2 separate regions of the Homo sapiens genome follow, and region 2 is linked to region 1. Evidence: fine-mapped expression QTL. A gene starts in region 1. The other region holds a variant in brackets. All regions are shown on one strand. Distances are between the middles of the regions.

What was found.
Region 2: its variant is fine-mapped to the expression of EPN1 in whole blood (INTERVAL, PIP above 0.99).

Annotation. Positions count from the first base shown.
Region 1 is chr19:55,672,606-55,677,963 of GRCh38, forward strand. EPN1 (epsin 1) reads left to right here and starts at 2,621. Exons shown (of 11, transcript NM_001130072.2): 1 at 2,621-2,830. It overlaps U2AF2 (U2 small nuclear RNA auxiliary factor 2), which reads left to right. Exons shown (of 12, transcript NM_007279.3): 12 at 1,329-2,111. The coding sequence ends at 1,463. RefSeq lists silencers at 2,183-2,402, 2,573-2,902, 5,098-5,358 and an enhancer at 5,314-5,358.
Region 2 is chr19:55,651,655-55,657,012 of GRCh38, forward strand. It overlaps CCDC106 (coiled-coil domain containing 106), which reads left to right. Exons shown (of 5, transcript NM_001370470.1): 5 at 776-1,507. The coding sequence ends at 1,092. It overlaps U2AF2 (U2 small nuclear RNA auxiliary factor 2), which reads left to right and starts at 3,381. Exons shown (of 12, transcript NM_007279.3): 1 at 3,381-3,499. The coding sequence starts at 3,451. RefSeq lists enhancers at 2,507-3,176, 4,127-4,206 and silencers at 3,227-3,276, 3,367-3,416, 3,627-3,766. The variant G/A (reference allele first, on the strand shown) is at 2,919.

The DNA of each region.
Region 1 (5,358 bases):
CCACTGCTCTAACCAGATAACCTTAAAAAATTGTTTTGTTTTTTTAACAAAACCACAATAGCATGATTAGATTAGCGAAATTCCTTAGTGCCTATTCCATGTTCAAATTTTTCTATCTCAAGAATTTTTTTTTTTTTTTTTGAGACAGAGTCTCGCTGTTGCCCAGGCTGGAGTGCAGTGTGCCCGCCACCACACCTGGTTAATTTTTTTTGTATTTTTAATAGAGACAGGGTTTCACCGTGTTAGCCAGGATGGTCTCGATCTCCTGACTTTGTGAGCCGCCCGTCTTGGCCTCCCAAAGTACTGGGATTACAGGCGTGAGCCACCGCGCCCGGCCAATAATTTTTTTTTTTTTGAGACGGAGCCTCACTCTGTCACCCAGGCTGGAGTGCAGTGGCGCAATCTCGGCTCACTGCATCCTTCACCTCCCGAGTTAAAGAAGAGTAGCTGGGACAGGCACCCGCCATCATGTCTGGCTAATTTTTGTATTTTTGGTAGAGATGGGGTTTCGCTATGTTGGCCATGCTGGTCTTGAACTCCTGACCTCAGGTGATCCATCTGCCTCAGCCTCCCAAAGTACTGGGATTACAGGCGTGAGCCACTGTGCCCAGCCGAGGATATTTTTTATAGTTTGTTTCAGTAAGGATCCATATCAGGTCCCTGCCTTGAATTTGGTTACAAAGTTTGTGTAATTTATCCTTTGTACCTCACTCCCTCTTTTTTTTTTTTGCAAGCTCTTTTATTTGTAGAAGAAATAAGTTCATCTGCTATATAGAATTTTCAGTGTTCGTGTAGGCTCATTGTATCCTTCCCTCCCTCCATTTTCCTGTAAATTGGTTTAAGCAAGGTTAGAAGCTCGAATAGATCAAGGTTCAAGTTTTTAAATTTTATTCAACCTGGGTTTGAATCCTAATTTCTGAGCTTCCCTTAGTTCACTTATTGTTGGGAGAACATGGCTGTTGGGGTGGTTCTGGGAGCGCCCACCATGGTGGCTCGTGTGGAGTAGACACTCAGCACGAGGGACCCCTCCCCCGCGGTGAGCTCGTCTAGGCCTCCCGCCTGCGCTCTATGGCTCTGCTGAGTTTCTGGCATGTCTCTATTCTTTCTCCCTCTCCATGCCTATGGTGTGTTTATGCTCTTGTTTTTTGATCCTGGAGAATATTTGGGTGAACTCCACCAAACCTGCTTACTAAGGGTCCCTTTCTGACACCTGTGGCGAAGCCCCCTCCTCCCTGTCCCTTCCTGCCTTCAGTGCTGGGGTTGGGTGGACGCTGACTGGCTGTTGGGCGTGAGCCTTGTTCACAAACCTGCCTCTCCTTTCCCCACAGATCTTTGTGGAGTTCACCTCTGTGTTTGACTGCCAGAAAGCCATGCAGGGCCTGACGGGCCGCAAGTTCGCCAACAGAGTGGTTGTCACAAAATACTGTGACCCCGACTCTTATCACCGCCGGGACTTCTGGTAGAGGCGGCTGGGGGAGGGTGGGGGCAGGGCTGGCTGGGGGCTTCTCCCCACTCCCGCCCCCCCCTTATCCCCCTCTGAAGACGATGGGCAGAGGAGTGACAGCCGCAGACACACGACAGCCGGCAGCAACTGGAATGGCAGCAATTAAGGGTGGGGGGCGGGGGTTGGGGGGTTGGGGGGTTAGGGCAGGGAGGGGACTGGGGAAGTGCGCACACAGCCCACACAGACAACACGCACCCACACAGACACAGAGGGAAGGGGTTGGGATGGGGACAGGGTGCACAGCAGGGCGGGGTAGGACCCCAGCCCCTCCCAAAACAGCCTCTCCTTCTCCCATAGACCCCTTTCTTCTCCCCTTCCCCACGGTAGGAACATAGCGTGTTTATATTTTATGGCCAAACTATTTTGAATTTTGTTGTCCGGCCCTCAGTGCCCTGCCCTCTCCCTTACCAGGACCACAGCTCTGTTCCTTCGGCCTCTGGTCCTCTCTGGTCCCCTCCTGGGTTTCTTACGTAGTTGATTTTTCCTCTTTAGTCTCCCCCGACCTGCGCCCAGCCCCGTGGCCCCTGCCCCTCTCCTACTCTCTGTGGCAGTTTCATATTTGCTAAGACGAATTTGCTCATTAAACATTTTGTTGTATTTTACTTTATGGAGCGGCTGTGTGTCCAGTATGTCCGACCCTCTTCCTCGGTTCTGGGCTCGGGTGGGGGTTCCCTTGGCAAACTGCGGGCCCCTGGCTGGGACGCCCCTGCTGCCGGCGCCGGCAGCCTCGAGGCCTTCCCTGCTTGCGCGGTGCCCTTCTCGGGGTCGGCACAGGCACAGCCCCGGGGGACGTGAGGTTCCCGAGTGCTCTCCCACCCCGCCGACAGGAGGGATGGTGGCCGAGCGGGCCGGGGCGGGCGTGGCGTGGGTGTGCCAGGAGCTCCGCGGTTGCCGCCAAGCGAGCTGGAGCTGACTCTCGGCGTTCCGTGAGCACCGCGCGGATCCCCCGCTGCAGCGGGCGGAAGTGACGTAGAGGCGCCTAGCAACGGGGCCCAGCGCGCCGGAAGTGATGCCTTCCAGGTTGGCTTGGCTGCGGAAGCGACTCCTGCCAGGGCGGGGTGCGGCACGGGAGGGCGGGGAGCGCGGCAATTTCCGCTTCCGGTCCGTCGCCTCCTTCTGTTGCTTCCCGTCTCCTCGGCGGCTCCCCTCCCCCGCCCGGCTCTCCGCGCCCCTTCTGGGCGGCGGGGCGGCGGAGCCGTCGGCGTGCGGCCCTCCTTGCGTTCGTGCGTGCGCCCGTGGCCCGGCGCACGTCCCGCGACACCGAGGCCGAGCGGGGCAGGGGGCTGACCGCCATGACCCCCCAGAGCCCGGCGTGAGGGGGCCGAGGTGAGCGCGGGGCGGAGCGCGGGGGACGCTGGCCCGCCTGCTCCGGGTGTTCGGGCCTGGGCCGCGGCGCGCGCGGGCTCGCGTCTGGCCAGTTCTGGGTGTCTCTGGCGGCCTTTGTGTCTCTGCTCCTGTGTCGGCCTTGACTGCCCCCGTGTCGGTTGTCTGTGTCTGTCTCTCTCGTGTCTGTGTGTCTGTCAGCGTCTGTTTCCTGTGGGCCTCTGCCTGTGCCTGTTTCAGTGAACTTAGAAAAGGGTTTGGAGATAGGAGTGTGTTTGTGTGTCTGTCCCGGGTCTCTCTCTCCTCTGTCTGTCGTGTCTGTGTCTGTCAGGATTTGTTCGTGTCTCGTTGAGTTTCCGAGTCTTCTTTTCCCTAGGTGTCTCTAGCCCTTCCCTGCGGGCTTTTCTGCCTATGGTGCAAATCTTACCCCCGCCCCGTCTTCGCATCTGAGTTTTGCCCCCATACCTATCACCTCCAATCCTGAAGTTTCTTTCCAGGAGTCTGTTAACTTGATCTAGAATCTGCCCCTTTTCCCCAGTTTTCTGAGTCTCTGGTGTGATGGTGAAGAGCCCCAGCCTTGGATTCAGAAGCCCGGCTGCCTGCTAAGCTGTGTAATTGCCAGGTGATAGTCTCTGTGTCAAAACCTCAGTTTCCTAGTCGTAGGAAATCCATAGTTCGTAGGCATTCGTAGTTCCTACATCATAGGGTCCTTGTGCATGTAAGTTGAGGTGATGCTTGTAAAGTGCCTGACGGTATCTGACACATAGCAAGTGTGTAATTACTGGGAGCTCTGGTTTTTATTATTACAGTGCTTAGAGATTTTTACACAGTAAGTGTTAGATATCGGTCGGTTATTGGAGTACTCCTTGGAGAACTTTGCCATATCCTTTGTATTCTTTTTAATGTAAGAATTCTCTTTGAATCAATTTAATTTGAAATACAGTCTCATTCTAAGCAGTATCTGAGAAATCTCAGCTTTGATGTGCTAGTTGGGTAATTTTTTCTAATGCACGCCAAATAAGTACAGAGTATTAAGATAGTGCCTTTTCTGCCGCCACCCTTTTGGAAATGTTCTCTGTTTTTTCTCTGATAATAATAGCAGCCAGTGTTATTGAGCGCCTACTATCTGTGGGGCACAGAGCCAAGCACTGCATGTACCCATCTTATTTAATCAACAGGCCTACCAGGTAGGAATTCTTTCATTTCAGAGTTGAGCAAACTGTGTCTCAAGGAGGTGTGCGCTGCAGGTAGCTGATGTGGCCAGGATTTGAACCCACATTTTATATTCTTTGCCATTAGATTCCATTTTTCTTATCTCTTATTTCTCAGCGCCAGGTCTCTTTTTGTTTCTGGGCCTCTTTCTTCCTTGGCCTCCTGCCTCCCTGTCTTCCCATGTTCTTGTATCTGCTGCTGCCTGTGTTTTTCTCATTGTGTCTCTGCCTAGCTCCCTCTGCCCAGGTTTCTATGTGTCTCTTTCTGTCAGAACTGTCTTCTATTTCTTCTCAGTCCCCTTCTCTGCATTTGTTACATCATCTCTTCATCTTAATGTATTAGGCTGGGGCTGTTTTGGGACTCCAGAGAGTTACTTTTTAACTAGCTACATCTGTCTTCAGGTGCCTGGCTTTCTGGCCTGAGGTGGAAGCAGAGGCCAGCCTCTCTCCGTCATCCCTATCTCCCCTGGGCTTACATCATGGCGGGGCTTTGAAAATCTCCCTCTGTGGCTTCTTGGAGCCGCATAGATGGGTGATCAGAGCTGGCTCTGGAACCAGGCTGCTCCAGGAGTAAGGTGTGTGTCCCTGGGCAAGGGGCTGAACCTCTGTGTCTCAGTTTCCACCCTGTGAGGTGGCTATGAATCATGGGGTTGTTTCAAGGATTAACTGAGTTAATACATGTAAAGCACTTAAAACAGTGCCTGGCATGGGATAAGAGCAGTGCGAGTGTCTGCTGGTGTCATCATCATTTGCTTGACTCTCTTGTTTCTCGTCACCAGTCTCGGGATGGGTTAATTTAATTTAGGTTAATTTAAAAGTATGAGTTTTGGAGTTCAGGTGGGCCTCGGGTTGAGTCTGCCCTGCCATTCCTGGTGTGTGACCTTGGTTGAATTATTTAACTTCCAGGAGCCCAGTCTTTGCATGCAGTGTTGAAAAAGGTAATGTCCCTCTTGTGCTGAGCGAGCACCTGGCACACAGCAGGGACCCAGGCAGTGGGGCTGTTAGGTTCCTTATCTCTCCTGAGCCTTGGGCTTCCGCTATCCTTGGGACGTCTGGTCTTCTGGCTTCCCCGGTTCTTCCTGCCGCCCTGGGTTGGTTCCCTGCTCCTGCCTCTGTCTTTAATCCCTTCATCAGCCTTCTTTCCCATGTGTCCTTGTTTCTGCTGTGGATTCCTGCCCCCTCTGCCCTTGTTCCAGAGGTCTTTCCTGCCCTCCCTCTCCACTTCCTCCTTGCATGGTTTACTGAATGGTTTTTCTGGGCCAGCTTCTTTGCTGGGAAAAGCCACATGCAGACAGACATGTTCTCTGCCCCCATGGGGCC
Region 2 (5,358 bases), 21 kb before region 1:
ACTTTCTTTTTTTTTTTTGGCGGGGGGGACGTCTTGCCCCGTCGCCCAGGCTGGAGTGGTGCAGTGGCGCATTCTCACCTCACTGGAATCTCCGCCTCCCGGGTCCACGCCATTCTCCTGCCTCAGCCTCCCGAGTAGCTGGGACTACAGGCACCCGCCACCACGCCTGGCTAATTTTTTGTATTTTTAGTAGAGGCCAGGGTTTCACCGTGTTTGCCAGGATGGTCTGGATCTCCTGCCCTCGTGATCCACCTGCCTCGGCCTCCCAAAGTGCTGGGATTACAGGCGTGAGCCACCGCGCATGGCCTGTCCTGGGTTTACTTTTAAGTTTTGGTCCACCGTCGAGGGCAGGGCCACCTTGGGCACCTCCTTAACTTTCATCAGTAAGGAGGAGGTGCGCAGTAGGACCTACCTCACGGGGAGGGTGAGACTTGAATAAGTGAATTCACCTGAGGCAGGGAGACGAGGGTGATGGCTCGGGGTGTCGGGGGGTGCTGGGACCGCGTGGGTTGAACCCGGCCTCTTGGCTCATTTTGTCTCCTCACTCTCCTTCCTGGGCCTGCCTCTTCCCATTTCCCACTGGTCCAAGATCTGGCTGCGATTCTTCCCCTCCTCTCTGCCCCTTCCTTGCCTGTTGTTCTCCGTCTCCACCTGCACCGGCCCGTGCCTCTGCTCGCCGAGATCCTTTCTTCCCATGGCCGTTTCCCTTCCCGTGTCCGCCCCCTCAGTCTTGTGCCCTGCCCCTCACTTTCGTGTCCCCGCCTCCACCCCTCAGTGAAGGACGCCGACGGGGTCCTCTGCCGGTACAAGAAGATCCTGGGCACCTTCCAGAAGCTCAAGAGCATGTCGCGGGCCTTCGAGCACCACCGCGTGGACAGGAACACCGTGGCGCTGACCACGCCCATCGCCGAGCTGCTCATTGTGGCCCCCGAGAAGCTGGCCGAGGTGGGCGAGTTCGACCCCTCCAAGGAGCGCCTGCTCGAGTACTCCCGCCGCTGCTTTCTGGCCCTGGACGACGAGACGCTCAAGAAGGTGCAGGCGCTCAAGAAGAGCAAGCTGCTGCTGCCCATCACCTACCGCTTCAAGCGGTGATCGCACCACGCCTCCGCGCCTCCACCCGGGCCTTCCTCCCCCGTGGACCCCGGTGGATGACCTGCCCCTCTCCCCGCCGCGCCCCTGCCCCTCCTCCTCGCTCCCTGGGTTGGGGGCTCCCTTAGCCGGGCCCCCAAGCGCGACGGCCCCGGACCGGCCGCGGCCCCTTCCCGAACGCCGGCACCCCCTTCCGCTTGGGCTGCCCAGCCCTGTCCTCGCCGGGCCCCTTCCTCCTGGAAAACCAGGCAGGCGGGTGCCCCCCCCTCGAGTGGGGGACTGTACAGACCCCGTCTCCGCCCTGGCCCCGCGGAGGAGCTGCCCACCTGATTCCCGGACAGACCTCCCCAACTCCGCGTGAGACAGAGAATTATTCAGATAATTTAAATTAAAAAACGACGTGAAAATTTGGAATAAACTTGGCCTCAGCCTCTTCCTAGGAGGGGGACGTGCCTGGGAGGGGGCGGCCGTCGCCCCGAAGACGGTGACGGGGTTGCGGGGGCTTCCAAGGGGGTGGGTGGTCAGGCGGGAGGACGGGTAGGATACGGTGTAATTAGCCCCCCGGAGGCAGAGATGGAGAGTGAAGCAGCTGCGCCCCAGAAAACTCGGAGGCAGAGCTCGGGAAAAGAAGCGCGGACACAGCCGGGCGCGGTGGCTCACGCCTGTAATCCCAGCACTTTGGGAGGCCGAGGCAGGCGGATCACGAGTTCAGGAGATCGAGACCATCCTGGCTAACACGGTGAAACCCCGTCTCTACTAAAAATACAAAAAATTAGCCAGGTGTGGTGGCGGGCGCCTGTAGTCCCAGCTACTTGGAAGGCTGAGGCAGGAGAATCGCTTGAACCCGGCAGGCGAAGGTTCCAGTGAGCCGAGATCGCGCCACTGCACTCCAGCCTGGGCGACAGAGACTCCGTCTCAAAAAAAAAAAAAAAAAAGTAAAAAGAAGCGTGGACACTACCCGCTGGGCTACCCAGACCGGAGCGCGGCGCGAGAGGCGTGAGTCGATGACCTCTAGCGAGGGAGGCCACCTAGCGGCCAGGCCAAGTCTGGAGGATACTTCCGTTGGGCCGCCAGGGGGCAGTAACGCCAGATCATCTGTCTCCCGGAAGTAATGCCAGATGATCCGTCTGCCGCGCCTGCGCGGCGGGAAGAGCCGGAGCGCGTTGATGTGGTTGCCGAGACAACCAAGAGGGTGGCCGGATTTAACGGCTGGGGATTAAGCACTTTCACCGTTGTAAGGGAAATCTCGCGCACGCGCAATGGGGACTGAAACCTGGTCCCCGCAACCCCCTTCACGGGAGCAGTGGGAGAGCGCGCCACAGAACGACTTTTACGCAGGCGCAGAAGCCTGTTTCCCCTCACCCGCGGCTTCCACCCTGCGCAGGCGCAAAAAGCCGCGCTGGCAACCTCCGCAGCGGTCGCGCGCACCCTTCATCCCTCTTGCTGCTTTTGTCTGGCACAACCTTCTCAGGCCCTCCGCGAGGCCGGCCCTTTTTTTCTTTCACTTTCCCCACCCGGAGAGCCAGGTGCCGAGAACTAGGACCTCGTCCCCTTCTCTATCCCTTCCCCTGATCCATCTCGTCTCTGTTCTCCTTCCCTTTTCCGTTCCCGAAGCCGGAAGGAGCCGAGGTACCCACGGAAAAAGTCGAAGCTGTCCCCGGAGAGTGAGGCCTTCACGAAGCGGTGGCGGAAGGAGCCGAAGTTCTCTGATCGGAGGCGTGAGCAAGTGGCATCTCCGGAAAGAGCCGAAACACGGACTCGAGCTTAATCCCAGGAGGGGCCCGAGGGCGAGATCCGGAAATCTCCGGAAAGAGCCGAAGGCCGGGACG[G/A]TTAGGATTGTCGGAAGTGGCCGATTGCTTGGACAGGGCCGGCGGAGAAGATCGGAGCAAGTCCGTGGAAGAAGCCAAAGACTGGGACGGATTGAATTGTTGGAAGAACCCGAACTCGCAGAGGGGACTGGGCGCAGTGGCACACGAGGACACACGGAAACCTCCGAACGTTGAGGAGATAATCTCGGAAAAGTTACGGAAACCTGGGAAGTCGGCGAAACCCTACGTTCGGGTGTTTTCGGAAGCAGCCGAAGCGGCCGCCTGCTTCGCCTTCGTCCAGTATCCGGAGATAGCCGAGGCGCTTCGGAGCCAGGCTCGGGGGGAGGGGCAAGCTCGCGGGCGGGCGGGCGGGTGAGGGGGCGGAGCCCGGGCGGGGCGGGGAGGGCTGCCGGAGGCTTGATTAGGTAGGAGGTGGCGAAGCGCCGGCGGCGGCCGGAAGTAGCCGAAGCCAGCGGCGGAAGTAGCCGAAGCGGCTGGAGCGGGCGGCAAGGCGAGGCGAAAGCTGCACAGGGCCCTACGCGGCCGCCTCAGCATGTCGGACTTCGACGAGTTCGAGCGGCAGCTCAACGAGAATAAACAAGGTGAGGGCACCGGGGTCGCGGGGCGGAGGTGTGGGCGGCTCCTCGCGTCGCTCTTTGCCCCCCCGCCATTTTCTCCCTCGCTTCCCCCCACTTCACGGCCGCGCGGCGCCCCCCAACCCTGGTTCCGTGGCGCGCGCCTCGTTCACGTGACGTCCCCAGCGTTCCGCCGCGCGCTAGGCGAGGGGAAGGGGGCGGCGGGGCGCGGGCCCGTGACGCATGCGCACGGCGGCTGTCCCTGCGCCCCACGTGGTCCTGGCGGAGGTGGCGCGGGGGACGCGGCACGAGCGCGCCAGATGCCTCGACGTGAACTTTTGTTTTTTAAAATCTTTTTGGTTTCTCTGAAAAGGAGATTATGTTAGTCCCCGTAATCTCTTTTCTCCCGCTGCCTTGGCACTTCCGCTTCCGGTCGGGCCCACGGCAGCGTCTCCACGCCCCCTTTGTTTCCAAAATGGCGGTTGTGAGAACTTGGTGGGGGGGCCCCTTTCCTTCCTTCACGTGGATGAGGGCAGAGCCGTTTCGGCGGATGCTTGGAGGCCACGGGCCCCTCGCGTACCCCTTTTCCTTTTTGCTGATTTGCTCTGATCTCTCCCGCCAGGTGGTTTCTGCCCCGTCTGTTGGTAGTGGGGCGCCTCATATTAACGTGTTTGGCACATGTTGCCTAAAAGCATCTGCATTCTTTGAGTGTCCGCACGCACACATCCTGCATATGCGGGGCTTTTGGCGGTCCCGAGAATCGCGATATGGAGTGTTTGAGACAAACCTCAAATCATTTACAATCCCAATCTCAGGGCACCTGATAATACTCAGTCTCAGATCTCAATATAGAGATAAGAAAACAGGTTCTGAGGGAGGAAGAGGGATCTGGCCCACTGCGCTAAACTCTTCACTTACGGGGAAGGTGGGAGGCAGGTTCCCTTCAGGGTATCGAAAATTGTGATGGGTTAGAACAAAAAGCCTGGGGCCCTGATCTTAGGGATTCCAATAATATTAGAAGTGGGAGAGTTGTTAAGACGCTTTAAAAATCCTCCGTGTTTCAGTTTGTGAAGAAATACAGGACCAGGGAAGATTGGAGACTTGTTTCTTTTCAGGCTTCAGCTGCCCATGTTCCTAGCTCGTTCGGAGGACGAAATGAGGGCTGAGGAATTTTCCTTTGAACCCGGGCTAGAGTTGGGTAGGGGCTGTATTAGGAAACAGTGTCCTGGGGAAGCAATAACGTTTACTGAGGGTCTGACTCTGTCTTAGTTGATGGACTGCTCAAGAGCATAGGCTTTGGAGTTGAGCACATCAGGAAGTTTAGATACCTGCTTTGTCGTTTAGTAACTGCTTTTAATACGTTTATATATTTTTTTCCATTTGTAGACTGATTATTATTTTCTTGTTACCGGATTTTGAGAAGATTAAAAAGGATGATAGTAACGATAGATGTAGTTAAACTCTGAGCGCTTACCGTGTGCCAGGCTCTTCGCTAAACTCTTAGCATGTTTTACTAAGTGGATCCTTTTAACAGCCTTGTGAGGCCAAAATGATTTCCACCTCTACTGGGGAGGAAACTGAGGGCTCAGAAAAGTTAAAAACTTTCTCAGGGCTCAGCTAGTCAGAGGCAGAGCTGAGATTAAATGGGGTAACATGTAAAGTGTGTGGCATGTGGCTTTGCGTACACTGGGTGTGCAGTAAGCGATATTTGCAATTGTAAAATTCCATGCTTAGAGAGGAGGGTCTTCCGCTCACAGAGATTGTGTCAGAGTTGGGAAAGGGCAGGAAAAGGTGCTTTCCAAATGTCATTCTGCCACACAACACCTGGATGGAGTAGATACGACCCTCGTTTAAAGAGAAAACCAAGTCTTAAAGGCTAAGTTGCT